Linked DNA regions of Homo sapiens. Changing the gene in region 6 together with the main gene of any one other region gives a genetic interaction. Each region holds a gene or a part of one and is shown on either strand. Other genes may lie near its edges.

Region 1 (4,239 bases), on a different chromosome or scaffold from region 6:
TTCACTCAGGCCTCCAAGACCCTGTGCATTCCAGTTCCCCCTCCCTGCCCCCTGGCTTTGTCTCCTTCACTAACTCTCTGACCAAGTGTCCTCCAGCCACCCTGGCCTTGCTGTTCCCACTCCCAGCTCTGTGGGAGGCTGCGTCCTTATCATCTGCTTCTCCAGGCTGCGTCACACCACTCTGCGGGTCAAGGCATCCCTCACCGCCCTCCCCTGTCCTGTTATCCTGTGTCATTTTCTTTGAGGCCAGGGTGTGCCTGCCTTGGGGCCTTCCTAATCGCTCTCCCTCTCGTGGGAATGTCCTTCCTCAGATAACTTGAATGGCCCCTTGCCTCCTTCAGGTCTGATTTGGAATCTGCCTTTCAGCCCCTCCCTGGCCCCTTTTCCCATTTTCACCTGCTCCTTGCCCTGCTTCCCAAACTCCGTATCTTCTCTCCTGGCTTTGTCTTCTCTCCTTAACACCTGTCACCATCTCATATGCCATGTTGTATTTAGTTAGTTCGGTGAATACTTACACCTTCTGGGCAGGGATCCTTGTTTTGTATCCCCAGCGCCTAGAGCAGGGTCTGGCACACAGTAGGTGCTGGCACAGTGCATGTTTGTTGAACAAGTGCTGGTTTTACTGTTACTGTTTGTGTTTATTCTCTTTTGCTGCCCTTTGGGTCAGTCACCTCCATGAGAGGGCAGCGACTGCATGTGCATGGTCACTGCTCTTTACTCATGTTGAGTTCTTGTGCAGTGATAGGACAGCCCAGTTCCTTTCAAGGCTCCTAGGGTTAAAGGCAGTGAGGTCCTGCAGAAGAGCCTAGCACTGACTTCTGTCCCCATCTCTCATCTAGGAAGGAGATGACAAAATTGAGTACCGAGCCTGGAACCCCTTCCGCTCCAAGCTAGCAGCAGCAATCCTGGGTGGTGTGGACCAGATCCACATCAAACCGGGGGCTAAGGTTCTCTACCTCGGGGCTGCCTCGGGCACCACGGTCTCCCATGTCTCTGACATCGTTGGTCCGGTGAGTGAGTAGATGGAGAGTCAGGCAGGAGGTAAAGGCTGCCTCCCTTCTGCCAACCTGGAATATCAGGGTTTGACTGCTTGCCTGCGCTGTGTGACTTAGGGCCAGGCCCTTTTCTGTCACTGTGCCTGTGAGTAAAAGGAGTGGCTTGAACCAGATAATGTCATTCAACCTCACTCCTGGGTTCTTGGCCTCAAGGGAAGAGACGTGGGTGTGGGGTGACCAACCTTAGAGAGACAACGGGGAGTATAGATACCAGACTATTTGATTTGATGGGCCTCTTTAAAATTTTATGCTGCTAAAACCTGCTCTTCTGGTTTCTTTAGAAAGAACCAGGAGATCTTCATGGTTTCTGAGCCTGTATAGGCTTCCCATTTAGAGGGCCCCTGGCACCCACGTGTCCCACTCTGTTACCCTTTGTTACTTTATGTGTTTATAAGCTGTTAAGTGTAGTGCCTTAAAACCTCAGGCTTTGGCCAGACGAGGTGGCTCATGCCTTTAATCTCAACACTTTCGGAGGCCGAGGCAGGTGGATCACCTGAGGTCAGGAGTTCGAGACCAGCCTGACCAATATGGTAAAACCCCATCTCTACTAAAAATACAAAAATTAGCTGGGTGTGGTGACGTGTGCCTGTAGTCCCACCTACTTGGGAGGCTGAGACAGGAGAATTGCTTGAACCCAGGAGGCGGACGTTGCACTAAGCTGAGATCGCACAACTGCACTCCATCCTGGGCAACAGAGTGAGACTCAAAAAAAAAAAAAAAAAAAACCTCAGGCTTTAATCAGGCAAGTTACCTAACCCATCCAAGCCTCAGTTTACCTGTCTGGAACATAGACTTGTGAAGATTAAATGAGTTAATTTCTGAAAGGTGCTTAGAGCAGTGGTTGGCCCATTGTTACATCATCTCTGTGCCTTGGCTTCCTGGTTTTAAGCCTCTGTTGGGAACCTGGGCTCTCAGGCAGATGGGATTGGGTACTTTTGCTACTTGCTGAATAACTCTTGGCCAGTGACTTTATGTCTGGACCTCAGTTTATTCATGTGAAAAATGGACATGATAGCAATAGTCATTAGATGGTAGGGTTTTGATTTGGGGGTTGGAAGAGATGCTGTGTATAGTGTATGGGCCTAAAGTAGGCACTCCATGCATGAGAACTAGCATCACTGTTCATTAATTTTTAATTTATTTTAGGATGGTCTAGTCTATGCAGTCGAGTTCTCCCACCGCTCTGGCCGTGACCTCATTAACTTGGCCAAGAAGAGGACCAACATCATTCCTGTGATCGAGGATGCTCGACACCCACACAAATACCGCATGCTCATCGGTGAGGGGTCTGGGGGTGGCCCCGGTGGGGTAGGACAGGCCACCGCAGGCTTCTGGAAGAAGCCAGTGGATCTCTGATTCGGATGGAGTTGGAGTGGATGAGCAGACCTCTTGAGTCTGCAGGAATAGAAAGGGGTAAGGGGAGCTAGGTGAGGTTGTGGAGGTGGCAGCTTGGCTTCAGAGTCTTGGAAGCCACCCTTGGAGGGCCAACCTCTTCTCCTTCAGTCTCCTCCCCATCTCCTAGGTCTCCTGTACTTCCTGCCTCTTGTATTTATTACACTACCCCTCCATAAAAAGCCTCCTTTTGGGGGTCCTAATCATTGTCTGGTGAGAGCATATCCCAGAAAACTAAGCATGGCTTGATCTGGAGGGGCCCACTGTGAATATTAATTACTTTGTTTAAAAAAACATTCAAAGATATAATATAAAAGTTGAAAAGCCTTATAAACCACCGCCAGAAGTAACTGATGAGAACAATTTGATGTCTGCTTTTCCCAGGTTTTAAATAATCAGTTTTCATTATACCACCTTTTCATTTTTTGAAAAGTCACACTGGCTTAAAAACATTATTTTTCATTCTGCTCCTTTTTCTTTCTGTGTTTTATTTTTCCCATGCACTCATACCATCCCCTTTGTTCTGCAACTTGTTTTCATTTCACAGTCCTGCGGACACTCTTGCCTATAAGTGCTCACTCACTCTTACTTGTCTTTTTGATGACGTGTCTGTCTCCCCACCAGACCTGGGAGCGTCTCGAGGGCAGGGTCCGGGTCTGACTCGTCTCTATGTCCCCCACGCCCGGCCCAGGGCTGGCCACAGAGTAGGTGGCAACCATGGTTTACAAGAAGAGTGGATGAATGATGTGACTGTGGGTTTTGGACTCATCTTGGGACACTGGAGGGAGGGGGACCAGTGGAGGTGGGGAGTGAAACTGGAGGCAGGGAGAATCTCCCAGGAACCTGCTGGTGATGGGCATAGGCCCCATGGGAGGATCTGGGGTGATCCCTGTGACTCCAACTTTTAACTGCTGCTCCTTTCTCCTTAGCAATGGTGGATGTGATCTTTGCTGATGTGGCCCAGCCAGACCAGACCCGGATTGTGGCCCTGAATGCCCACACCTTCCTGCGTAATGGAGGACACTTTGTGATTTCCATTAAGGTGCGGGGTTTGGAAGAGTCTAAGATGGGGTGGCAGTGTTCTAGGGAGGTATCTTCTCTATCTGTATCTGTCAAATAGCCACCCAAAACAGAGGGGCCAAGTCTGCAAAACTATAGCTTTGGATTTAAAGAGGCAGGAGAGTGCAGCGGTCAAGTGCAAAATTGAGTCTGACCATCTGAGTTTAATCCCAGCCTGCTGTGTGACTGAGCAAGTTACTTAACCTATATGCCTCAGTTTCCTCACTTATGAAATAGAAATATTGTCTAGTCTTTTTCAGGGTAGATGACAGGATCAAATTAGTCAATATAATATGAAGTGTTTAGAAAAGATCCTGGCATAGAATAGATACTAGATAAAAGCTAGGTGCATCTTTCACAGCATTTTTATTTGGAAATAATGGAGAACTCTCCCATGCACCCTTCACAAGGTTCACCATTTGTTAGCCTTTTGCTACATTTGTTTTATTATTCTCAACTGCATTATTACTATTATTAAAGAAGAGGAAGTAGAAATAAGCCAAACAATTCCTGGGTATAAAATTTAAGCACTGGCTTTTAGATAAATAGGACTGTTTAAGGCTTCCTGCTTCAAATCCAAAACAAAACTAAAAACTTTTTTTTTTTTTAATTTGAGACAGAGTCTCGCTCTGTCACCAAGGCTGGCGTGAAGTGGTGCAATCTCAGCTCACTGCAACCTCTGCCTCCCAGGTTCAAGCAATTCTTCTGCCTCAGCCTCCTAAGTAGCTGGGAC
Region 2 (4,239 bases), about 54 Mb from region 6:
TCAGGGGTCAAACTAGGGTGGCATGGGAGCGTGTGGACACAGGCATGCAGGAGAGGCCAGGACGCTCAGAGGGAGGGCCGGGCGGGGAAGCCACATGTGCGTGGAACGGGACAGAGAGCCAGAGAGCTGCAGGGGTGGGTTCAGACGGCTTCGGCACAGGGTGGGGCGGCCTCTGCGCCCTGGGATGAGCACCACGCTCAGCAGCCCTCCCCGGCCTCAGGAGCAGCATATCTGACACGACACGGCCTTCCCAGGAACACCCTCCAGACCCCGCTGGACCCTCGCCGGAGGCCCGAGGCTTCCCTGCAGCCCGTGGGCACTCACTGGAGCGGGTCGGCGTGCTTCTGCAGGAAGGAGATGGCTGCTGGGGCATTGTAGGTAATGTACTTATGGATGAACTGCACAAACTTGTTGATGAAGGCAGCCAGATGGCGGGAGGACTTCCTGTAATTCTGCAAAGCAAAAGCGGCACCCTCGAGCTGCTCTGCCCCGCAGGGCCAAAACAGAGCCTGTGCTCCCATCTGCTCCCAGAGCCTCAGGGCATGGACCCCACAGCCAACGAGCCCCCTCTGCCAACCACTGGGGCGTCACAGGCCCAAGGGTGGCCGGCATGGCCTGTCAGGGTGTGGACATGGCTGTCTGGGGCATGTGCCCAGATGGATGAGGGGCTCGAGGTAGCACAAGCGACACGCAGAGAACAGCACGGAGGGTCTGGGCTGGGCTTCTGAAGGACGTGGGCCCCCCAGGCACGTGAGGGGCAGCAGGCAGGGGCTTCCCAGGGTGGGAGCTGGTCCCCAGGGCAGGTGGCCTGGCCTGGGCCCTGGCTGCAGAGGTCCTCCCAGTCCCTCCGCGAGTGGGTGAGGCAGGCCTGGGCCAGAGCAGAGGGAGTGGAAGGGAGCGCGAGGGCGGGCGGCGGGAGCACACACCAGCAGCAGGCGGATGAAGGACAGAAGGCAGTCCCACAGCGCCCCCTGGTGCTCGCTGCGGAACACGTGCGGCTGCAGCAGCTCCAGCAGGCCCAGCACGTGCAGGAAGCAGCTCAGGTGGTTCTGCTGCCGGAACTCCTGGAAGTTGAGGTGGGTGCGGCCGTGCAGGAGCGCCGCGATCATGGGCAGGTGCCTGCGGGCGCGGTGAGGGCCCAGTCAGCCCCGGCCGGCGGGCTCACCTGGCGCACGTCCCCAGGAAGGCCCCACTGCCTGCCCCGGGAGCCAGACCCCGTGCTGCCCCCCAACCACCCTCCTGCCCTAAGGAGGTGGGGATGAGATCGCCCCTCTCTGAGGCCCACCCAGCTCCTCCCACCTGAGGCCCAGCTCAGTCCTGACTTCCCCCGGTCAAGCTCAGCCCATGGGAACATGCTTTTTTTTGTTGTTTTTGGAGTTTTGCTCTTGTTGCCCAGGCTGGAGAGCCGCAGACCCCCCTGGTTAAACCAGTGTCTGGCGAGGGCAGGGCTTCTGGGACAGCACCTGAGCAGCAGCAGCGGGTGCGCCACCGCCAGCTTCCGGCAGGCCATGCTGGCATCCGCCCCTCGGTTCTCCAACGCCCGGGAGTCGCTGGTGTCCGCAAGGAGCGTGATGAAGCGGTGGATGAGTCCGTCCAGCTGCAGGGAGGGGCGCTCTGAGGCCGGGGCCGCTGGCTCCCCTCACTTGCCCACCCACACTCAGCCTGGCCGCCAGCTGTGGCCGTGATCCACCGCGTGGCACGCCATGAGCAGAGGAACTGGCTCCTTACGGCTTCCATGAGCACCTCGGGAGGGCAGGCAGGCCACAGCCAGCCTCTGGGAAAACCCCATACAGAATAAAAGCAAAGCTCCACACCAAATGATACAATGAGCGGGAAACAAGCCAAAACTACACATCGGCCAAGCAGGCGCAGTGGCTCACGCCTGCCATCCCAGCACTCTGTGAGGCCGCGGCAGAAGATCACCAGAGCCCAGGAGTTCAAGACTAGCCTGGGCAATGAAAATAGCCCTCTCTATTTTCAAAAATACAAAAAGAGTAACTGGGTGTGGTGGCACGTGCCTGTGATCCCAGCTACTCGGGAGGCTGAGGTGGGAGGCTCACTTGAGCACAGGGGGTTGAGGCTGCAGTGAGCTATGATGGTACCGCTGCACTCCAGCCTTGGCAACAGACACCCTGCCTCAAAAACCCTCCACAAAACTGCACATCAAGTGTGATTTCAACAAATAAAATGACATATAAGTGAAAAAAACCACAAGCAGAAATGATTAGAGAAAGTCAGCTGCCCTCTGTGGTACCAGCAGAAGACAGGCTGCAGGTTCCGGCCTGCGGTGGGGAAGCGGGTACGGGAGGCCCAGCTCTCCCCACCAGGGTCACTGGAGAGGAGCAGACGCAGCCGTCCGCCAAGACCCGGGCACGAGTCCCCAGCAGCTGTCACTGCCCCAAACTGAACGTGACCCCACGTCCACCAGCAGGTGAACAGATAAACCAACGGCCGATCCACACAATGGCAGGCCACCCAGTGCCCACAACACCACGACTCTCCAGACTGTGCGAGCAGAGCACCCGCAAGCTCCCTCGGTATAAAACTCAACGCAGACAAACCCACAGGGCCACAGGGCGGCGCGGACTGGGAAGGGGCAAGAGGGGTAGCCGGCGATGGCCATGTACACTGTGGCCTCCGCCCTCCCTCCCTGCCCGGCCAGGGCACCTGGGACGGCGGCGGGGAGCGGCAGAGTTGCGCCCTCACCTTGCAGACGCTGCTGCTGGCAGCCCCTTCGCTGTGCAGTAGGACCTCAGGCACGGGCACCCGCAGCTCCGGCCGCTGTAGGTAGAGCTGCAGGAGAAGGTCTCGGCAGCGCCTGCCCAGCACGCTGGAAGAGGTGGAGCAGGGCTCACCAGGCGGACGGGGCCCCAGTGACAGGGGTGGGTGGACGGGACCAGGCGTGATGGGAACCCACCCAGGGCTGGGCCTCGACCCCCTCCATGGCTCACTCCCAGGCAGCATCTGGGGCCGGGGGGCCTGAGCACCTGTCTCCCCACTGCTGGATGCAGCCTGACAGGTGCTCCGTCACCTTCCTGACACTCTCATCGTCCCCACAGCAGCAGCTGAGCAGCAGGGGCAGCCGGGCCTGGATGAGGCTGCAGGCGGCTGTGTCCCCGTCCTGGCTCCGCGTCTCCGCCTCGGCCAGGATCAGCTCCACCAGGCTGATGAGCTCCGGGCCCTGGACCCGCAGCACCAGCTCCTCCCGCCGCTTCTGTAACGGGTGCCTGCATCAGCCCCGGAGCACCACCGCCTCTCCCGGATGGGCCACCCCCTCTCCCGGATGGGCCACCCCCTCTCCCGGATGGGCCACCCTCCCAAGACCTGCCTGCGGGGTGCGCTGGTCCCGCCCCTGCCAGATGCGAGGAACATGGATGCAGGCCCAGAGGAAGTCCAGAGAGGCAGAGGGGTCGAACCTGTGGGGAGGCAAAGGTTCCAGAGCACGAGGTGTCTCGTCTCAGCATGGGAGATACCAGTCAGAGCCGGCGCTGGGAGATTTCTGGTGAAGGCCAGTATGCGCGCAGCCCAGGTTGGGGACAGGGAGGCGCCCACCTCTGTTCCCGGCTCTTGCCCAGCAGGACTCGGATGCACTGGTGCAGTGTGGGCCAGCTGGACTGATGCGTGAAGAGGGTCAGGAGGTAGGGACGGAACGAGGGCACCTGGGCCTGACCTTTGCCCTGGGGAGGGAGGAAGAAGCCCGGATGGCCTCACCTGGGCCAATGGCAGGCTCTGCTGAAGTCAGCTGACAGCTTCCCCAATGAGCCACTCAGAGAGCCGAGGCTTGGGGTGCTGCCGGTAACACCGGCCCCGTCATGGTGCTGGAGGGCCGCTCCTGGTGGCTGCGCTGCATCTCCCCGCCCCTTCCCACGGGAGCCATGCCACACAGCGGAGGTGCCCGGGGCTCCATGCAGCCTCTCTGGTGAGGCCGTCCCTCCCTGGAGGATGTGGGGAGCCCAGCACCTGCCCTCCCTTCTCCTGGCCACAGCCCCATTCCCTTTGGGAAGATGGAGGCCCCTACATGATCTACAGGGTTTGGCAGGGCCGACCCCACCCCATCCACCCACCCCATCCCCACATCTGGCTGGTCACAGTGCTGGTCCACAGGTGACTGTGACCCTGGCCTGGGTTCTGCTAGGGCCATTGGGGGACCTACCCTTCCTCTGGGTTGCTACAGGGACACATGGCCTGAGAGCAGGGGGGGTGCTGGGGCCCCTGCAAGGCTCGCCCAGGCCAAGGCTG
Region 3 (3,884 bases), on a different chromosome or scaffold from region 6:
ACGAATCACTTAGGAACTAGAGAAAAGTAAACATAAATCCTAACCTTGCCATCTTAGTATTGCCATCATTCTCATTTTAATATATTTCCTTCTACTTATTTTTCATGTGCTTTTATATATTTAAAGTGATTACCATCTTTCTGGTGTTTCCCATAGCTATTTTCTTGGATTTTTTTTTTTTTTTTGAGATGAAGTCTCACTCTGTCACCCATGCTGGAGTGCGGTGGTATGATCTCGGCTCACTGCAACCTCTGCCTCCCGAGTTAAAGCGATTCTCCTGCCTCAGCCACCGAAGTAGCTGGGATTACAGGTGTGTGCCACCACACCTGGCTAATTTGTATTTTTTTTTTTTTTTTAGTAGAGATGGGGTTTCACCATGTTGTCCAGGCTGGTCTTGAACTCCTGACCTCAGGTGATCCGCCTGCCTCAGCCTTCCAAAGTGTTGGGATTACAGGTGTGAGCCACCATGCCTGGCCAGGAAAGAATTTTTTAACAGCACATATCAGCACTACTTTATCAGTCTTCTATATAACACCTCACTGAAGCATAAATGTCCATCAAACAGGGAAGAAACGCTCTCATTATATTGAATGATCAGAGAATGATCTTTGTAACCACTCAAGTATTTTAAGTGGCTGCAAATGACATGTTTGGTATCCCCTTGTCCACTCCTGATACCTGACCCAGATGAGAAGGACTCATTAGTGCAGTGGATAGAGCCTGGGGACATCTGGGAGATGGAGTCAGGGCCTAGATTTGAGTTCTGGCTCTGCCACTCACTTGGCTGAATAGCTGTGTGATTTGGAACAAGTGCCTTAACATTTCTGAATCTCGATTTCCTCATCGATAAAATGGGGGCTTAAAATAGAACCGCCATCACGGGGGTGCTTTGTAAACTGTGACTTGCTCCTGAAATGCAGGGATCATCATCCGCATTGCCTCACTTGTGACCTTGCTTGCTGGCTTTCTTTGTCCCTAGCGGATGACCACCAGGCTCTCATCTGGGACATCCAGCAAATGCCCCGAGCCATTGAGGACCCTATCCTGGCCTACACAGCTGAAGGAGAGATCAACAATGTGCAGTGGGCATCAACTCAGCCCGACTGGATCGCCATCTGCTACAACAACTGCCTGGAGATACTCAGAGTGTAGTGTTGGTGGCGCTGTGCCCACGAGGCAGGGGCTTTTGTATTTCCTGCCTCTGCCCCACCCCCAAAGTAAGAAGAAACATGTTTCCAGTGGCCAGTATGTCTTTCATTGCTTTGCACCCACTGTTACCAGAAGCTGCTCTAGGAGTTCCTGGCCAGTCACCCCATCGCCCTCTGTGGCAGACTCAGTGCTGTGTGGCGCCTCCTCAGCCCAGGGCTGAGTTTTAAGATTTTCTCTCCTTTCCTCTTCTCCTTTGGTTCCTCAATTAAAAAATGTGTGTATATTTGTTTGTCAGGCGTTGTGTTGAGGAGCAGTTCACGCACTGGCTGTGTCTATTCCTCTGCCCAGGTGTCTCTGTTTGCTGCCCAAGGCAGCAGTTCATGTCTCGTCCATGTCCATGTTCGTGTTAGCACTTACGTGGGAACAAATACCAATTTGTCTTTTCTCCTAGTATCAGTGTGTTTAACAAATTTTAACTTTGTATATTTGTTATCTATCAGGCTAATTTTTTTATGAAAAGAATTTTACTCTCCTGCTTCATTTCTTTGTCTTATAGTCCTCCCTCTTTGCACCTTCTTCTCTTCCCTCAGTGCCTGGAGCTGGTACTGGGCCCCTGGCCCCATGAGCAGTTTGCCTTCTTGAGTCACTGCCTGTGTAGTACATACCTGACCGGGAGTCCAAACCACCTTGGTGCTCTGAAGTCCACTGACTCATCACACCTTTCTTAGCCTGGCTCCTCTCAAGGGCATTCTGGGCTTGTAAACAGACATAGGAAGCCTCTGTTTACCCTGAAGCACCACTGTCCAGCCCATTGGTTCCCACTGGCAGCATGGTAGAGCTGAGAGAAACAGGCTCTCAGGGTACCTGACTTGAGGGGAATCGTTTCATGAAGCTGAACTTCAAGCATATTTCCAGTACATTCTTTCAGAGTCTGTTTTTCCATCCAAATATAAGCCCCAGGCCATTCCACTTAGTGTCTTTTCAATGATAGGCAAGAATGATATCTGAGTTGAACTTCGGTGCTTCTGTTGTTTGAGTTTACTGTGCCTGGTGGTATATTGGGCATTCTTTGGATTGAGTGTTCTGAGGTGAGAGAGTCTTCCCGAGGCATCCTGTCTGTGCTTCCAACCCTGAACAAGACCTTACATGAGAGATGGACTGATGGACTGCGGCAATCCTGGGCTGTCAAGTGGATAGATAGTTAAAAAGCATTATACTGTGGGTAATGAAAAGGGAGGAAAAAAAAAGAAGGAAAAGGAATTATAGACCCCCAGGGTCAGCCAGTTAAGAGCTCTACCCACACCTGTCAACCCCTCTCTCCCCCAGTTTAGGTTCTGAGCAGTATTGGACTTGTAGCCTGCAGTTGTCTTTTGACTTGCAGGCCGCAGGTGTCTTTCTGTTATGTGAATGAGTTCCATGGAGGGGCATATGTGTGATTCCACCGTTAGATGAGCCCTTGGGGCAGGCAGTTTGGGATGTGCTCTTGGGGGAAAGTTGGCTGTTTCCTTGCGCTCTGCTCCTACCCGAAGGTTTTTAAGTCCCTCTGAATTGCTCATCTGAGATTAGTAGAGTAGCAGGCCTGAAGGATGATGGTTTTGTCCTCTTTGGTTCTCACCTGCTTGAGAAGTAAAACAGTAACTTTGTTCTTCTGGGCCCTTAAGCTTTTTTGGTTAAGTCTTCCTTTTCAGAAGTAGATGTCATTATATGCCAAAAGTCTAGCTCTTTGCTTTACCATACAGGGACCTGTCCCAAAGAAAAAGGCTCTTTTTTTAGCCAGCATATTTCCCCTTCTACCCTTTTACTTTGTTGTTCTGATTTTAGGACTCTGGCTGGCCATGTGCTTGTGGTTGCCTCTCCTGCATTTGCCACTGGATTTGCACTGCATCGTTTGGAGATACAAAGCGAGCAGTTCTTGGTCAGAACCCTCCTCTGCTTTTCATTGTGTTTGATAATGGTTACTGGGTCCTTCTCTCAAGGGTAGCAAGGCCAAGCTGATGGCTGCTTGTTTAGGAGGCCATCAGTTCCTTCCTGTGGAGAAGGGTCTGAAATGGAAGTCAGTGGTAGAAGGGGCTGGTCTGCTGGGCAGGGCTTACATCCACTGAGTTCTAAGATTCCTTTCCTGATCTGCACCTACGCCTGGTCTGTATGGTGGAATTTGTCAGCTGGAACTCAGAAACAACAACTTGAAAAAAAAATAATAATTAGAACATATTTGCATAAGATAGCTATTTACTCTGGAAACCAACAACTTTTGAGATTTCCCTTGCCCTGTGGACGCCCAGCTCCTGTCATCCTTCCTTAGGTCCTGCAGTACAGTCTTCCCCTGAATGCCACCGGGGACCCAGGGGGACTCCACCCCCCTAAGCAAGCACACACATACTCACAGTTGATGAGTTGCTGGTCTTTGAGTCCCAGCTCTCTTACCCTCCCTTTACTCCACCAGCCCGACGACCCATGACTGAGGAGGGGATTTCTACAGTCTCAGGATTTAGAAAGTCTGTAAGCCATCCATGCTCCAGAAAGCACCGATCTGTTGTAGTTGCAAAAACAACTCTGTAATTTGTTGAGGTTCTCAAACTGACAGCCAGCGAGACTGGGTGGGAGGCCCTGGATCTGTTCTCCCTGACTGCGGGAGGAGCAGCCACTAGGACTTTAGCAGGAAGCCCACATGGAGGCTCCGCCAGGCTGTGGCCCAGCTGGTGATGGCCCTTTTGCTCCTGGCAGCCTGAGGCACA
Region 4 (4,239 bases), on a different chromosome or scaffold from region 6:
GGGTGAAACGCCATCTCTACTAAAATACAAAAAATTAGCCAGGCGTGGCAGCATGTACCTGTAATCCCAGCTACTTGGGAGGCTGAGACAGGAGAATCGCTTGAATCCAGGAGGCAGACATTGCAATGACCCGAGATCGCACTGTTGCACTCCAGCGTGGGACACAGAGCACGACTCCAACTCAACAAAAAAGGTTGTGGATGGGGTGATCTGACACTTTTTCAAAAAATGCCAAAGCTTTAGAACTACACAGAACCATGAAACTTTTATAAGGTAACTGAAAGATAAGAAAATACAGTGATTCTTTACATCATTTAAAAAATAAGCATCAAGAACTCTATAAATCACTAATAAATAGAGGTTTAAGAATGGCTTGGGTAAACTGGTGGGTTAGTAAGTCCATAATAAGTTATGCAGCTAGGCGGGGTGCAGTGGCTCACGCCTGTAATTCCAACACTTTGGGAGACCAAGGTGGGCAGATCACTTAAGATCAGGAGTTCAAGACCAGCTTGGCCAACACAGTGAAACCCCATCTCTACTAAAAAATACAAAACAAAAACTAGCTGGACATGGTGGCACGCACCTGTAATTCCAGCTATTTGGGAGGCTAAGGCAGGAGAATGGCTTGAACCCAGGAGGTAGAGGTTGCAGTGAGCTGAGATTGCGCCACTGCACTCCAGCCTGAGCGACAGAGAGACACTCTGTCTCAAAAAAAAAAAAAAAATGTTATGCAGGTAAATCCTCCCATGGAGGTGGTTATTGCTCCTTCCACCCCCGAACACCCTCTGTCGCTTGGGTACCCTAAGATACCATGCTTTTATATAAAGCACTGTTCTTGTGAGAAATACGTGTAACCTGTGTTTTTTATGTTTAGAGATTTTATTCCCTCAAAGTTGCCCCCAAAGTTAAAGCCACAGCTGCGCCTGCAGGAGCACCGCCACAACCTCAGGACCTTGAGGTTAGTCCCACTAACTTGCTCGCTGGAAGCTATACATGCCTTACTCTCCTTGGTAATACGAAGACATTCATTATATCTCTACTTTATTTTAAATACAGTTTACCAAGTTACCAAATGGCTTGGTGATTGCTTCTTTGGAAAACTATTCTCCTGTATCAAGAATTGGTTTGTTCATTAAAGCAGGCAGTAGATATGAGGACTTCAGCAATTTAGGAACCACCCATTTGCTGCGTCTTACATCCAGTCTGGTGAGTATCTTCACTTCCTCAAGTGTTTGGAAATGCTGTGGTATCTTGGTCCTGTGAAAAAGAAAAACTAAGATCAATGTCTTTATATTTTGATTCCTTGACCTGCCATAACAAATTACCACGGACTGGGTAGCTTAAACCAAATAAGTTTATCCTGTTACAGTTCTAGAGGCTAGAAGTCCAAGTCAAGGTGTCTAAGCCAAGCCAAGATATCAGCAGGGCTGTGATCCCTCTAAAGGTTCTAGGAAGGCACAAATCCTCCCCTGCCTGTTCCTAGCTTCCAGCAGTTGCCCACAACCCTTCATGTTCCTTGACCTGCAACTGCATCACTGCAGTCTCTGCCTTTGTTGTCACATGGCCTTCCTTCTGTCTGTGTCCACATTTCCTCCTGATAAGGATACCAGTTACATTAGATTTAGTGCCCACTATAATTCAATATGATGTCATCTTAAGTACTTAAATCTGCAGAGACCTTATTACCAAATAAAGTAACATGCAAATATTCTGGCTGGACATAAATTTGGGGGGGAACACTGTTAAACCCAGTACTGTCCCCTAATGTAAAATGAGAAACCACAAGATATTTGCCACAGAGAAGCACTAAATTAGTATCCATATGAATGTTGATGTTAGAGCATAAGAAATCAGTAAACAAATTTTTAACAGGAAGTGCCGCAAATTGAAAGAAAATTAACTCTTTTTTTCCCATATACAAGTCTCTTTCAGAATAGACTAATGAATCCAGTAAGCTTGTATTTGACAGTGGAAATTTTACATGAATGTACTTAATGTAAAAATGTATACTTAAGCTTTTTGTTGAGCCTTGTTTTATAATTCTTAACTAAAAAGGATGCAGGAATTTAGTAAAATTCTTTTTAAATCTGCTCACAACAGATTTTGATATAGTGTGATGTTTGGCAAACTTGGCATTGAAAAGCTACAAAGATAATCATTCTTTCTTTTTCAAGACGACAAAAGGAGCTTCATCTTTCAAGATAACCCGTGGAATTGAAGCAGTTGGTGGCAAATTAAGGTTTGTTAAATAAGTAATAGAAAATAGTGAAAATGCCAGAAAATATTCAATTTTAAGGGAACTTTTCTCTGTTATCAAGGAGGTTGAGGATTTCTTAAGCAACATAAGAAGGAAAAGACTGATGAATTTGAGTATATCAAACTGTAAAACATCTTTATGTCTTAAAGTAAAAATTTAAGTAACTGTCTGGGAGTAGATATCTGCAATATATAGGCATACCTCAGAGATGTTGCAGGTTCTGTTCCAGACCACCACAATGAAGGGAATATTGCAGCAAAGCAAGTCATAGGAATTTTGTGGTTTCCCAGTGCATATAAAAGTTATGTTTACACTATACTGTGGTCTACTAAGTGTACAATGACATTTTGTCTTGGAAAAAAAGTACATAACCTTAATTTTAAAATATTTTATTGCTTTAAAAATGTTAACAGTTATCTGAATCTTCAGCAAGTCATAATCTTTGCTGGTGGAGGGTCTTGCCTCCACGTTAATGGCTGATGACTGATCAAGGTGGTGGTTGCTGAAGGTGGTGGTGACTGATAATTTCTTAAAATCAGACAACAGTGAAGTTTGCTGCATTGATTGACTCTTCCTTTTGTGAAAGACTTCTCTGTAGCATGAGATGTTGTTTTTAGCCGTTTACCCACAGAACTTCTTTCAAAATTAGTCAGTCATCTCAAACCTTACCACTTTTTTATCAACCAAGATTATGTAATATTCTTTTTTATCATTTCGACAGTGTTCACAGCATCTTCAACCAGGAGCAGATTCTATCTCAAGAAACCACTTTGTTTGCTCATCCATAAGAAGCATCTCCTCATCTGTTCAAGCTTTATCATAAGATTGCAGCCATTCAGTCACATCTTCAGGCCCCACTTCTAGTTCTCTTGCTACTCCCACCATAGTTGCAGTTTCTTCCCCCTCTGAAGTCTTGCCTCTCAGAGTCATCCATAAGGGTTGGAATTGGCTTCTTCCAAACTCACGTTAATGTTGATACTTTGACATCCTCCCATGAGTCACAAATGTTCTTAATGGTGTCTAGAATGGTGAATTCTTTCCAGAAAGTTTTTTAATTTACTTTGCCCAGATCCATCAGCGTCTTCACTATCTGTGGTAGCTGTAGCCTTACAAAATGTATTTCTTAAATAATAAGACTTGAAAATAAAAATTACTCCTTGATCCATGGGGTGCAGAAGGGATGTTCTATTAGCAGGCATGAAAACAGTGTCAATCTCCTTGTACATCTGCATCAGAGCTCTTGGCATTGTTGCAGTAATAATTTGAAAGGAATCTTTTTTCTGAGCAATGGGCTTAAAATATTCAGTCAACCATGCTATAAACAGATGTACTATCATCCAGGCTTTTTTGTTCATTTACAGAGCATAGGCAGAGTAGATTTAGCATAATTCCTAAGGGCTCTAGGATTTTGAGAATGGTAAATGACCTCATCCTAAAGTCACCAGCTGCATTAGTCCCCAACAAGAGTCAGCTTGTCGTTTGAAGCTTTGACGCCAGGCATTGACTTCTCTAGCTACGAATGTCCTGGACGGCATCTTCCAATGTAAGGCTGTTTTGTCAGCATTGAAAATCTGTGGTTTAGTGTAGCCACCTTCATCGATGATCTTATGTAGATCTTCTGGATAACGTGCTGCAGCTTCTATATTAGCATTTGCTGCTTCACTGTGTACTATTATATTAAGAAGATGGCTTCTTTCCTTAAAGCTCATGAACTAACCACGGCTAGCTTCAGACTTTTCTTCTGCATCTCACCTCTCTCAGCCTTCATATAATTGAAGAGAGTTAGGGCATTGCTCTGGATTAAGCTTTGACTTAAGGGAATACAGTTTGATCTAATCCAGACCAGTAAAACTCTGTATTATCAGCAATAAGTCTGTCTTGCTTTCATATCATTTATGTGTTCAGTGGAGTAGCACTATTAGTTTTCTTCAAGAACTGCACTGGTGCAAGAGGCCTAGCTTTTGACCTGTATCCGTTTTTAA
Region 5 (4,239 bases), on a different chromosome or scaffold from region 6:
TGTTATTCTTAATTTTATTTTCAGAAGTTCTTTAGGAAAATACTAATTTTTTTTTTTTTTTTGGAGAGGGAGTCTCACTCTGTCACCCATGCTGGAGTGCAGTGGCACAATCTCGGCTCACTGCAACCTCCGCCTCCTGGGTTCAAGCGATTCTCCTGCCTCAGCCTCCCGGGTAGCTGAGATTACCGGTGCCTGCCACCATGCCCGTCTAATTTTTGTATTTTAGTAGAGATGGTGTTTCACCATGTTGGTCAGGCTGGTCTTGAACTCCTGACCTCAAATAATCCGCCTGCCTTGGTCTTCCAAAGTGCTGGGATGGTAGGCGTGAGCCACCGCGCCTGGCCTAATTTTGTATGCTTGTAAGTTAACATTATGTGCCTTTGTATGGATTTGAAATATAAGGATAAAAATCAACCATATTTGTATATTCACTGAATAGCCACTATTCTGATGTATTTAACATCATATATATATGTATTTTTTTTTGTTGTTTTTTTTTTTTTGAGACGGAGTTTCACTTTTGTTGCCCAGGCTGGAGTGCAGTAGTGCAATCTTGGTTCACTGCAACCTCTGCCTCCCGGGTTCGAGTGATTCTTCTGCCTCAGCTTCCCAAGTAGCTGGGATTACAGGCATGCGCCAGCACACCGGCTAATTTTTGTAATTTTAGTAGAGATGGGGTTTCACCATGTTGGCCAGACTGGTCTCAAACTCCTGACCTCAGGTGATCCACCTGCCTTGGCCTCCCAGACTGCTGGGATTACAGGCGTGAGCCACCACGCCTGGCCAACATCCAGTATTTTTGAGTACATGGTTTTCATATACTTAGGCTATACATACATGTTCATGAATTGTATTCATTTAATTATGCTTCTGACTTTACTTGTTCTCCCTAGGGGAATATCAGTTATGCGTGCTTAGTAAAGTTGTGTTATTTTCCAAGATGAAAAATTGCATATATTTAAGAATCATTATTCAAGGGCATTGATTTGTGGGGGGTAGAAAGTTATTATGTGGCCTTTTGCTCATTAAAAACACTGGATCTTTATACTTCCTTTCAGAAGACAGATACTTCTCAGGAGTCAAAGGTAAGAGCTCTTTATAAAGTTTGAAGGAGACCTTTGAACCTTTCAGGTGAGGGGATACGTGCCCCTAGTGGATGGTGACCTCAGCCTTGCTTGTGTTGTATTGTTTTGGAGACAGGTCTTACTGTTGCCCAGGCTGGAGTGCAGTTGTGTGGTCTCAGCTCACTGCAGCCATGACCTCCCCAGCTCAAGTGATCCTCTCACCTCAACTTCATGAGTAGCTGGGAATATAGGTGCGCACCACCATGCCCAGCTAATACTTTCTATAGAAACAGGGTCTCAGTGTGTTGCCTAGGCCGGTGTCAAACCCCTGGCTTCAAGTGATCCTCCAGCCTCGACCTCCTGAAGTGACTGTGGGCCACTGCATCTGTCGTTTGTTTTTTTTGTTTGTTTTTGTTTTTGTTTTTGAGACGGAGTCTCGCTCACTTGCCCAGGCTGGAGTGCAGTGGCGCGATCTCGGCTCACTGCAAGCTCTGCCTCCTGGGTTCACGCCATTCTCCTGCCTGGCCTCCCGAGTAGCTGGGACTACAGGTGCCCGCCACCACACCCAGCTAATTTTTTGTATTTTTAGTAGAGACGGGGTTTCACCATGTTAGCCAGGATAGTCTCAATCTCCTGACCTCATCATCCGCCCTCCTCAGCTTCCCAAAGTGCTGGGATTACAGGTGTGAGCCACCATGCCCAGCCTGTCCTTTGTTCTGTTTTTGATCACTGAGCTATGGTTGAAGGGAAGTAAAAAAAAAAAACAAAAACAGACTTACTTTTTTTTTTTTTTTTTGACACAGGGTCTTACTTTGTCACCCAGGCTAGAGTACAGTGACGCAAACGTGGCTCACTGCAGCTTCAGCCTCCAGGCTTCAAGTGAGCCTTACCTCAACCTCATGAGTAGCTGGGACTATAGATGCACACCATCATGCCTGGCTAATTTTTGTATTTTTTTGGTTAGGGTATTTTTTTTATTTTATTTTATTTTTTGTTTTTTTGGTAGACACTAGTTTTGCCATGTTGCCCAGGCTGTTGTTTTAACTCCTGGGCTCAGTTGATTCACCCACCTTGGCCTCCCAAAGTGCTGGTATTGCAGGTGTGTGCCACTGCACCCAGCCTTGGGAAGTAAAATGATAAGATTTGGGGTTTTGTGAAAAAGATAAAATGGCCACACATGCCAGTATGGTCTTGTTGTTGGATGTTGAGAATGTCATTGTTTGAGAAGTGATTGTGTTCCCTACCTGTGACTGTTACATGAGTATATTCTTAAAAAATAATTTTCTTAGAATTAGAAAATGGGAGTTCAGTTATAACCACTGATTCCTTACCTGTTACCGAGGACTTCATGGTCCAAAGTTACTTCTTTTCTGGTAGGCGCAAGCAAACTGTCGAGTAGGAGTTGCAGCACTGAATACTCTAGCAGGCTATATTGACTGGGTGTCTATGAGTCACATCACTGCTGAAAACTGTAAACTCCTGGAGATACTGTGTTTGCTGTTGAATGAACAGGAACTTCAGTTGGGAGCCGCTGAGTGTCTTCTCATTGCAGTCAGCAGAAAAGTAAGTTACCACTTCAAACTGACTTATCCTCAGTCTCTGAAGTAGGCTGTGTATGTGTTTAATTGCATGTTGTGGCAGAAAGTCATTTAAAGGTTTGGGTTTTTTTCCTTGGGGCCAACTTACTGCCTGCTTCCAACCCCCTTGGACAGGAGTTTGCCAATATTCAAGGGATCCTTTGGCAGAATGTGGAGATTTATCAGGCTGCATGGTTCTTGAAATAGCCATGATACTTGGCAATTTACAGTTAACAGATAAAAGTAAATGTTTAAGTTTAAAGCTCACTTAATGAATGTCAAGGAATCTTGGATGGTGGCTACAGTAGGTTTATATCTGTCTTTTTTTTTTTTTTTTTTTTTTAATTGAAACAGTCTTGCTCTGTCACCCAGGCTGGAGTGCAGTGGCGTGATGTTGGCTCACTGCAACGTCCGCCTTCCGGGTTCAAGCGATTCTCCTGCCTCAGCTTCCCGAGTAGCTAGGACTATAGGCACACGCCACCATGCCCGACTGATTTTTGTATTTTTTAGTAGAGATGAGGTTTTGCCATGTTAGCCAGGCTCTTCTCGAACTCCTGAGCTCAAGTGATCTGCCCTCCTCAGCCTCCTAAAGTGCTGGGATTACAGGCGTGAGCCACTGCGCCAAGCCTATGTCTGTCTTGGCTAACCAATGGAACTGTGACTCTTTTCTCCATAGGAATATTATCTACAAATGTAATTTACTTTGCTGTCATATCAGCATTATTGCCCAACACATTTATTTATTTATTTATTTATTTTTTGAGATGGAGTCTCGTTCTGTTGTCTAGGCTGGAGTGCAGTGGCGCAATCTCAGCTCAGTGCAACCTCTGCCTCCCGGGTTCAAGCAATTCTCCTGCCTCAGCCTCCTGAGTATCTGGGATTACAGGCGTGTGCCACCACACCCAGCTAATTTTTGTATTTTTTAGTAGAGATGGGGTTTCACTATGTTGGCCAGGCTGGTCTCGAACTTTTGACCTCAAGTGATCCACCTGCTTTGACCTCCCAAAGTGCTAGGATTACAGGTGTGAGCCACGGCACCTGGCCTAATTTTTGTATTTTTAGTAGAGACAGGGTTTCACCATGTTGACCAGGCTGGTCTCGAACTCCTGATCTCAGTTGTTCCGCCTGCCTCGTCCTCCCAAAGTGCTGGGATTACAGGCATGAGCCACCGCACTCGGCCTGCCGAACACATTTAAAAATGTAAGTTTATGCTTTTTCACTAAACTGATAGTTTTGAGAAAAAATATGTAGTTTATCCAGATTTGGTTTTAAAGAGTTGGGCTTCTTTCTAGTGTTTCACTAAACCCTGGGGTATATAAGAAATTATGAAGTCAATATATTTGATTATATACTTACAGAAGATGTCGGTACTTTGAAGTATAGTTTATATGACTATGTTTCCCTAAAATTGGGTCTAGGGCAAGTTGGAAGACCGGAAGCCCTTGATGGTCTTATTTGGAGATGTTGCCATGCATTATATACTCTCCGCCGCACAGTGAGTATCTTTACTTTTCAGTGTGTTTTCTAATTTCTTTGTCATTTTTCTATCTTATTTGGATTTATCTGAAGTTCTTTTTTTTTTTTTTATTTTGAGATGG
Region 6 (4,239 bases):
TTGCTTGTTTGTACTTACATTTGTACTGGTGGCTCCAGGGTTTAGGGAAATTGTGACATAAAATAATTCCTGACAGAGAAAGCAAAACTTTGTCTAATGAAAGAGTTTTAGAAGCCACTCTTGATCTCTAGAAGGGGAGATTAACTGAGAAAAAAAATTGAAAGAACAATTATGAGGGGGAGATTTTACCCTGCCAGATTTGTGTACATGAAAAATTTTACATTCCGTATGGAAAAAAAAAACACAAAATAATAAGCCATTATAAGGTAAATGACAAACAAAGCTAAAGAAAAATGTGCCACAGTGATGACACAGATATATCTTTGAGATAGGGCTTAACAGAGCTTTAAAATCCATAGGAAAACACTTCGAGCCTGAGATACCAAGAGCAGATGGTTCACAGAAGAATCATCAATGTCCTATAAATATTTTTGAGGATCTTCTTGGGGAACTTAAAACAGGAACAGGCCAGGCACAGTGGCTCATTGGCTCATGCCTTTAATCCCAGCACTTTGGGAGACTGAAGGGGCTGGATTGTCTGAGGTCAGGAGTTTGGGACCAGCCTGGCCAACAGGGTGAAACCTCGTCTCTACTAAAAATACAAAAATTAGCCGGGCGTGGTGGCGCACGCCTGTAATCACAGCCGCTCAGGAGGCTGAGGCAGGAGAATTGCTTTAACCCAGGAGGCGGAGGTTGCAGTGAGCTGAGATCACACCACTGCACTCCAGCCTGGGTGACAGAGCAAGACTCCATCTCAGACAAACAAAAAAGGAAGACATAGAGCTCCTAAAAATAACGCAGAAGTCTGCTATTAATACAAATGAATTACTTTAAAGGTGAGAGCAGGTGGAGGAGAGGGCTGAGGTGCCTGCTGGGACGCAAAACAGCTGGCCCCTCAAGGGACCCAGTGTTTCCTGCCATGATGAAACACCTGTATTGTCCACATTGCGGCCTAGAATGTTATTAAACTCTTGAACGGGATTCCTTCTCTATTTGCAACCTTTCATTCTTTGTCCTTAAAGTAAATAAAGCCAAAGGAGGATGGAGCCTTTCCATCACCCCTCAAGAGGACCTGGACCGCCTGTGTGAGGCCCGAGCACCTGGTGCCACCGTCATCACCTTCCTTTCATGCTCTCTTCCCCAGGTAATTATGTGGTGACAGATCACGGCTCGTGCGTCCGAGCCTGTGGGGCCGACAGCTATGAGATGGAGGAAGACGGCGTCCGCAAGTGTAAGAAGTGCGAAGGGCCTTGCCGCAAAGGTAGGAAGCCCGCCGGTGTGCGGACGAGGCTTGTTCTCGGCTGCTGAGGCTGGGCTCTCATGCCACCTCCAAAGGAACACATCTTCCTCTTCTCATTAAAAAACAACTATACATATCGTTTCTTTAAAACAGAAGATAAAGCTGTAAAGCTAGGTTAGGCAATGGGAAGGCACTGAAGGTTGTGACGGGGTGGGGGGCTCTGATGAGAACAGTCACAGAGCCAGCCCCGCTCAGCAGCTGCCAGGTGCCCAGCCCTGGGGAGAATCCAGGGAAGGCAGAGCTGGAAGCAGTGCAGCTCCAAGCGGCCCATGGGAAATAATGAGGAGAACGCAAGGTCAGTGTGAGGTGACAGGGATGGCATCTCCTACACCGCCGTAGCCCCAAAGTGTACTATAGGTCCTGGTGTCCCCCCTTCCCGCCTGCACTCTCCCCAGCCCCTTCAGTGTTTGTTGAGTGAATGAAGGATGATGTGGCAGTGGCGGTTCCGGTGACCGGAATTCCTTCCTGCTTCCCTCTGCCTGTGGATCCCTAGCTATTCTTAATCCAACAAATGTGAACGGAATACACGTCTCTCTTATCTCTGCAGTGTGTAACGGAATAGGTATTGGTGAATTTAAAGACTCACTCTCCATAAATGCTACGAATATTAAACACTTCAAAAACTGCACCTCCATCAGTGGCGATCTCCACATCCTGCCGGTGGCATTTAGGGGGTGAGTCACAGGTTCAGTTGCTTGTATAAAGAAAAACAAAATCTGCCTTTTTAACTGGTAGAGATTGGTGATCAATAATCACCCTGTTGTTTGTTTCAGTGACTCCTTCACACATACTCCTCCTCTGGATCCACAGGAACTGGATATTCTGAAAACCGTAAAGGAAATCACAGGTTTGAGCTGAATTATCACATGAATATAAATGGGAAATCAGTGTTTTAGAGAGAGAACTTTTCGACATATTTCCTGTTCCCTTGGAATAAAAACATTTCTTCTGAAATTTTACCGTTAATGGCTGATGTTTTGATATTTTTCAAAAGTGCAGTTTCTCCTGCAGGCAAAAGGGGACACGTTAAGTCCAGGCTTGGGTCATTCACTGCGGTGTAAACACGCTTTCTCCCTCCCGCCCGGCCCCAGCCAGCTGCCTTGGTGGCCCATAACCCCTGAGGGTAGAGGGAGGGGACAGGGGTAGGTGACAGGCAGCCTGGGCCTCAGGCTTTTGAAACTGGACGCCAGAGCCTTGTGGGGCCACGGGCAAGCCTCGGGTCTATGACTGCCGCCTGAGCTCCGCTTCCTTCCTCTCTAAAATGGGAAGATTAGACCAAAATAACAAGACTGTTTTAAGGTTGGAATCAAATAAGGAAAATTTGTAAAGCTCCTTGTATGTGATACCAGATCCACAATTGGCAGATAATCGCAGCAGGAGCCTCTTCGGGGTAATCAGATACGCGGCGCAGCAGGGGTCTCAGGGCCACAGCCAGGGGGGCGGCGGGAGACATGCGGAATCGCAGCGGAAGGCGGGAGGCAGCTGTGAACTGTGGCTCGGCCTGCGTCCGCCCTGCGCATGTACACTCAGAGAAGATGATAATGAAAAAGAAAGCAAATCCAATTTTCCCACTTACTGTTCATATAATACAGAGTCCCTGAGAGTCTAGAGTAATGTCTCATACAAAAAAGAAACTCCTACGTGGTGTGTGTCTGAAGTCTTTCATCTGCCTTACAGGGTTTTTGCTGATTCAGGCTTGGCCTGAAAACAGGACGGACCTCCATGCCTTTGAGAACCTAGAAATCATACGCGGCAGGACCAAGCAACAGTAAGTTGACCACAGCCAAAGCCTGGTAGATTACATTTGCCTTTTTAGTTGGAAATTAGGCTTAACAGGAGAGTTGCTAAGATAGGGCACAGAGCTCCTGCATCTCTCGCCGGCATTCCCAAATGCTATCTCACATGAGCAGGCACAGGGAGCAAGACTGCACGACCACTGGCACAGGCTGTCCGCTAAACCACAGACTTCTCAGCGCTCGCCAGTGCTTCTGCTTCTGTGTCCACTCCAGATCCCACATTGCACTTAGTTGTCAAATCTTTTCAGTCCATTTCTAACCTATATTAGCTCCTGTGTCTTTCCTTGTCTTTCACGGCCTTGACACTTACAAAACGTGTGGGTCAGGTACTTTGCACACTGTCTAACCATGTCTGTTCAGCTGGTGTTTTCTCAGGATGCAATTGAGGTTATGCACATCTTATCACAGGGACCAGAGAGACTTTTTAGCACCACTCTTCAAGAATTTCCACTTTTTCAGCTTTGACAGTGGAATAGACATGCAGGTGCTCACACACAAGCATCTTTAATATGGTAATGGTAATCATCAGTTTAGTGGTGTGGAGGAGGAGATGGGAATCTCTTAGTGAAACCCGCCTTGGAAGCAGCCTCGTTATGAGAACTGCTGCCCCTACTTGACTCTTAAAGCACTAGATAATACTGTGCAACATTAAAGAGAATAAGAGTGCGTGAAATATGCATTGCCTCCCATAAACTCCCTTGGCTCTGAATCTCTGATACTAAATATGTGGCTACCGTTGCTTCCCAGAAAGGCCTTTTTGCTCTGAATTCTCTGGAATGCTTTCTTTGACCAAGATTCTTATAAAAATAAGAGATTTAGAGCAATTTTCTTGGATGGCTGGTATGAGCCAGTTGGCTTAGTTGTAGGGATTTAAACAAGATAAGGGTTACTTACTTTTCACATTTAATGAGAAGTCTGGTGATTCCAGCTCCTACTGAGACAGGGTGGCCACACGTTCCAGGGTGTGACTCACTGAGGCCCCAGACCTGCCCTGCAAGGAAAACCTGGCTCTGCCCTGGTGTCCTGGCCTCCCTGGGCATATGTGGGGGAGAATTCCTAATGGTATTGGTTACAGGCTCCTATGCGAGACCACTCATCTGTGTAGGAGAAAGGAAAAAGATGGGGGAAAGAAGAGCAGCAGGG
Region 7 (4,239 bases), about 20 Mb from region 6:
CAGCCTGGATGACTCTGTCTCAATAGAAAAAGAAAAAATGAAAAATTAGCTGGGCATGGTGGTGCACACCTGTAGTCCCAGCTACTCAGAAGGCTGAGGCAGAAAGGTCCCTTGAGCCCAGGAGTTCGAGCTGCAGTGAGCTATGATCATGCCACTGCACTGGGCAACACGGTGAGACCCTGTTTCAAAAAAGGAAGGGACTATGGCCATGGGAAGATGGCATTGGATTAGAAGATGGCATTACAGGGTGTGAATGAAGTTCTTAACAAAAAGCGAATAGTCTGCGATTTATCTGTAGATACATGGCCACAGAGCTGAGTCATCCTAGAGCAAACCTCTGGAGTGGAGAGCGAACTACTTCATTCCCCTCCCTTAGCCTGGGCCAGAGAGACTCCAGCTCTGCCTTCTCCAGCCAAAAAATCAAAGGCAGATGGGAGAACAGCCTTCAGCTTTGGATAACGATGAAATATCTGGCACCACTGATGAATATTAAACTTTCTATAACCAAAACATCATTTCTAAGAGTTTTAAGAATCTGGCCAGACATTGTTGATGTGTTTGGCCTTCTGATCAGTGTGAAACACAGAGCTGTCATTAGGGGGAGAAAACATCCTCCAATTCTCTGGTATTCGTATGGGTTTTCTGGATGATTTATACGCTCGTCCCTTCCAGGTTACTAACCCTCAAGATGTGGGAAGTTTGTGTTCTGAGCCAGGAGAGCTGGCGAGACAGACTCCCCCAGCAAGAATTTAAGCAGGGGAGAGAGAATTATTATTCTAAATCTCTGTCTGCATGTTCTTGCCAAGCAAGGAGGAAAAAAACAAAACAAAAAAAAAACAAAAAAAAACCGTGTGGATGTCATAAACCTTGGTGGTGTAGTTTGAGTTTCTGGTGAGGGAGGTTCTTACTTGGATGGACTTACTGACCCTTGTTTTTACTGTAATGTAGGAGAAGGACATGTTTTTGTCTGGGGCTATGGAATTCTTGGGAAAGGTCCAAACCTAGTGGAAAGTGCCGTCCCTGAAATGATTCCACCCACTCTCTTTGGCTTGACGGAGTTCAACCCAGAAATCCAGGTTTCCCGCATCCGATGTGGACTCAGCCACTTTGCTGCACTGACCAGTAAGTTACCAAGCCCGGTGGCCCTGGTGTGAGCCCAGCAGAGGTTCTCTGTCTCCAGTTCAACCCCAAACTGCGGGCAGCTCTCAGGTTCCACCCATCCAACAGAACGGCGCCTTTGTACTGATAACTCAAGCAAGGGCTAAGCCAGAAGTTGTTTGCCTCGAGGTTGTATAATGTCTTGTTTTCCCCCCCTGGAGTTTTAATTTTGGTTCGTTTGGTTTGTGGGTAGGCTAACGTGAACGTGCATTTTCTCAAGAGAGCACCCGTCGGTGGTAGGAAGGGGCATTGCTAGTACGTCGGGTGCTGGAGGAAACCAGCAGAGGCTTGGCGGATCCATGGGTGGGTGATTAGGAAGTGAATGTGTGGGGCTTAATCCCATTCCCTGGCCGAGCCCAGACCCTGATCTGACCCAGGATATGGGATGGCAAAAGGCCGATTTGTCAGACTGTCCCGTGGTTTCACGGAGGTAAATCTACCGATTTCTCCAAAGTGCCGGGGTAGAGAATGATGAAAGGGGAGAGCAAAATGGAGGTTTTTCCCAAAGGCCTGCCAGATTACAAAGCCACAGAATATCCGCTTACCCTGCAGGGTAAGGGTAAGGAATGTGTCCTTTTCTTGGTTACATCTCTTACTCCACCACAGTTACCGTGGGTTCAATTTGCTGCTCTTTAGTTGACTCGAATAGTAAAACTGTCCTGAATTAATTTCATTCTGTGATTCTCAAGTAAATTAGTTATTTCCTTGCAATTAAAAGAATCTTTTCATCTCATGGCAAGTAATTGTTTTCTTTTTAAACATCCAGGCCGGGACAGTCAGTTGGTGTCATCTTTGGTTGAGTTCTCTGGCCTCATTCCCACGTGGGGCCTGTCCCAGATGCTCACCCTCTGTACCAGGGTCCTAACTGCTATTCACTTATTGTCTGAATTCCAGGCTCCAGAGGCCGTCAAACAGGCAGGCCTGGGTTGTTATGGCTGCCAGCTGGAGTTTTATCTGGCTCTAGGCTGAAGCACTGAAGTGGCAGTGGTCATGACTAAGCCAGAGAATTCCTGGCCACTGCCCAGCCAGAGTGGCCACTTGCATTTGCAGCTGAGTGTAGGTCTCATGAATTCTTTTTTTTTGAGTTGGAGTCTCACTCTTGTTGCCCAGGCTGGAGTGCAATGGCGCGATCTTGGCTCACTGCAACCTCCGCCTCCCGAGTTCAAACGATTCTCCTGCCTCAGCCTCCCAAGTAGCTGGGATTACAGGCACACACCACCACGCCCGGCTAATTCAGTGTCATGAATTCTTAAAGCTATTTTGATTTGATAAATAAGAGTCGTATGGACTAATTTTGGGGGAAACAAATATCTACTTTCCAGAAAGTTCTTAAGGCCTCAACTATGGGCAGAGACACATGTTTAGAAATCTGTGTGAAGCATTTGACTAGAGCAGAGGCTTTTCTATTTGCCCTCATGCCATGTAGCCATTTCAGGTCACAGCGAAATGAAATTCCTTTCTGGATTTCTCCCCGAGACTTAACAGGCCTCCTTCTAAGGGTGAGTTACTGCCTGTTGGTAGACAGAGCCTAGCTGTCTTCCTGCCTGTGTGCCTGGCATTTGCAGATAGCCATCTGGGAATTAGAGTTGGTTGGTTTATCCTGTGGTCTGCTAGCATTTTGGGGAGCCAGGCCGAATTGTTCTATTAAACACCTAAGGGCTAGCTGGGTGCAGTGGCTCATGCTTGTAATCCCAGCACTTTGGGAGGCCAAGATGAGAGGATCCCTCAAAGCCCAGGAGTTCGAGACTAGCCTAGGCAACATAGTGAGATCCCTTTTCTACAAAAAATACAGAAATTAGCTGGGTGTGGTGGTGTGCGCCTGTAGTCCCAGCTACTCTGGAGGCTGAGGTGGAAGGACTGCTTGAGTTTGAGAGTTCAAGGCTGCAGTGAGCTATGTTTGTGCCACTGCGTCGCAGCCTGGGCAGCAGAGTGAGACCCTGTCTCAAAAGCAAACAAACACACACACACAAAAACTATCTAAGGTCTGAGTGTGGAGAACAAGGGGCATGCTTAGATCAGGGGCCTAAGACAGCTTGTAATTATTCCGTACTTCATCAGCCCCAGGTCTTGTAGTCCTGGCTTTTCCATGTCACTTCCTCTGCCTCCCATGACCCAAGCCTTTTGCCCAACAGCTGATGGTGACATGGGCCCAGGAGTGCCCCAGCTGGTGCAGACAGAGTCCCACCTGAAGGCCGGGCTAGGAGAGGCCATCTCCTGGGTTGACCTCTTAAACAGCATCTTGTACTTTTTCTTCATGACAGTTTTTACAGTTTGTAAACATATATTAAAATCATCTGTCTGTTCCGTCTCTGGCCAGTCCCCAGCTCCTGGAACACAGACCTAGACCCAGCACAAGCAGGCACTTGGTCATTAGATGCCCTGTGGCTGAATGCTCCCAAGATATGGACAATCAATCCAGGAATGACAAATTGTCTTACTTTTCACTGTCAAATCAGGAAGCCCAGGGTGTCGCCAGGATTTGTGGAAGGCAGAGTTTGGTGGCACACGATTGTGGGCGGGGCACAAGGGGTGAGCAGAGTGGGCCGTGTGCATCAGTGACCTCCAGCCCCGTGCACCACCCCCAGACCCCAGCTCCATGCACCACCCCCAGACCTGTCCACCACCCCCAGACCCCAACTCCATGCACTACCCCCAGCCCTGTCCACCACCCCCAGACCCCAGCTCCATGCACCACCCCCAGCCCTGTCCACCACCCCCAGACCCCAGCTCCATGCACCACCCCCAGCCCCGTGCACCACCCCCAGACCCCAGCTCCATGCATCACCCCCAGCCCCGTGCACTGCCCCCTGCCCCATCTTCATTTGAGTGCTCATCTCCCACGTGGGTGGATGCAGCAGAAGTCCTGGCCGTGGATGTGTTTTCGATATGGGGACAGCATCTCAGACCCTTACTTTTGCCTTCAAAGAAAGCATGAACGCCTGGTAAAAGCTGAACAGTGGGCTCTGTAGGTATCTGGTTCTAGAAAGCCTGTTCTCATGACCCATCCTCTCCTTGGAGACTTGTTCTTCACACAGTCCCAACCAACCCCTGTTTTCCTCCCTTTGCAGACAAAGGAGAGCT

Evidence for each region.
Region 1: changes in EGFR (region 6) and FBL together harm fitness more than expected from each alone (negative genetic interaction), as found in Homo sapiens cells (one large-scale study listed by BioGRID).
Region 2: changes in EGFR (region 6) and INTS1 together harm fitness more than expected from each alone (negative genetic interaction), as found in Homo sapiens cells (one large-scale study listed by BioGRID).
Region 3: changes in EGFR (region 6) and DCAF7 together harm fitness more than expected from each alone (negative genetic interaction), as found in Homo sapiens cells (one large-scale study listed by BioGRID).
Region 4: changes in EGFR (region 6) and UQCRC2 together harm fitness more than expected from each alone (negative genetic interaction), as found in Homo sapiens cells (one large-scale study listed by BioGRID).
Region 5: changes in EGFR (region 6) and XPO5 together harm fitness more than expected from each alone (negative genetic interaction), as found in Homo sapiens cells (one large-scale study listed by BioGRID).
Region 7: changes in EGFR (region 6) and RCC1L together harm fitness more than expected from each alone (negative genetic interaction), as found in Homo sapiens cells (one large-scale study listed by BioGRID).

What each region holds. Positions count from the first base shown.
Region 1 is NC_000019.10:39,835,806-39,840,044, reverse strand, and holds part of FBL (rRNA 2'-O-methyltransferase fibrillarin), read left to right. Parts: intron 1-839; coding exon 840-1,010; intron 1,011-2,201; coding exon 2,202-2,334; intron 2,335-3,376; coding exon 3,377-3,489; intron 3,490-4,239.
Region 2 is NC_000007.14:1,473,242-1,477,480, forward strand, and holds part of INTS1 (integrator complex subunit 1), read right to left. Parts: intron 3,678-4,239; coding exon 3,553-3,677; intron 3,417-3,552; coding exon 3,329-3,416; intron 3,215-3,328; coding exon 2,988-3,214; intron 2,831-2,987; coding exon 2,707-2,830; intron 1,598-2,706; coding exon 1,464-1,597; intron 1,120-1,463; coding exon 927-1,119; intron 453-926; coding exon 325-452; intron 1-324. UniProt on the Homo sapiens protein: Component of the integrator complex, a multiprotein complex that terminates RNA polymerase II (Pol II) transcription in the promoter-proximal region of genes.
Region 3 is NC_000017.11:63,588,021-63,591,904, forward strand, and holds part of DCAF7 (DDB1- and CUL4-associated factor 7), read left to right. Parts: intron 1-979; coding exon 980-1,152; 3' UTR 1,153-3,884. UniProt on the Homo sapiens protein: Involved in craniofacial development. Acts upstream of the EDN1 pathway and is required for formation of the upper jaw equivalent, the palatoquadrate. The activity required for EDN1 pathway function differs between the first and second arches.
Region 4 is NC_000016.10:21,956,361-21,960,599, forward strand, and holds part of UQCRC2 (cytochrome b-c1 complex subunit 2, mitochondrial precursor), read left to right. Parts: intron 1-874; coding exon 875-958; intron 959-1,056; coding exon 1,057-1,206; exon of another isoform or gene 1,207-1,224; coding exon of another isoform or gene 1,225-1,257; intron 1,258-2,174; coding exon 2,175-2,239; intron 2,240-4,239. UniProt on the Homo sapiens protein: Component of the ubiquinol-cytochrome c oxidoreductase, a multisubunit transmembrane complex that is part of the mitochondrial electron transport chain which drives oxidative phosphorylation.
Region 5 is NC_000006.12:43,565,557-43,569,795, reverse strand, and holds part of XPO5 (exportin-5), read left to right. Parts: intron 1-1,058; coding exon 1,059-1,085; intron 1,086-2,441; coding exon 2,442-2,627; intron 2,628-4,059; coding exon 4,060-4,136; intron 4,137-4,239. UniProt on the Homo sapiens protein: Mediates the nuclear export of proteins bearing a double-stranded RNA binding domain (dsRBD) and double-stranded RNAs (cargos). XPO5 in the nucleus binds cooperatively to the RNA and to the GTPase Ran in its active GTP-bound form.
Region 6 is NC_000007.14:55,154,686-55,158,924, forward strand, and holds part of EGFR (epidermal growth factor receptor isoform a precursor), read left to right. Parts: intron 1-1,144; coding exon 1,145-1,261; intron 1,262-1,847; coding exon 1,848-1,974; intron 1,975-2,073; coding exon 2,074-2,147; coding exon of another isoform or gene 2,148-2,158; exon of another isoform or gene 2,159-2,254; intron 2,255-2,977; coding exon 2,978-3,068; intron 3,069-4,239. UniProt on the Homo sapiens protein: Receptor tyrosine kinase binding ligands of the EGF family and activating several signaling cascades to convert extracellular cues into appropriate cellular responses.
Region 7 is NC_000007.14:75,052,784-75,057,022, reverse strand, and holds part of RCC1L (RCC1-like G exchanging factor-like protein), read left to right. Parts: intron 1-298; coding exon of another isoform or gene 299-318; exon of another isoform or gene 319-510; intron 511-948; coding exon 949-1,122; intron 1,123-4,226; coding exon 4,227-4,239. UniProt on the Homo sapiens protein: Guanine nucleotide exchange factor (GEF) for mitochondrial dynamin-related GTPase OPA1. Activates OPA1, by exchanging bound GDP for free GTP, and drives OPA1 and MFN1-dependent mitochondrial fusion. Plays an essential role in mitochondrial ribosome biogenesis.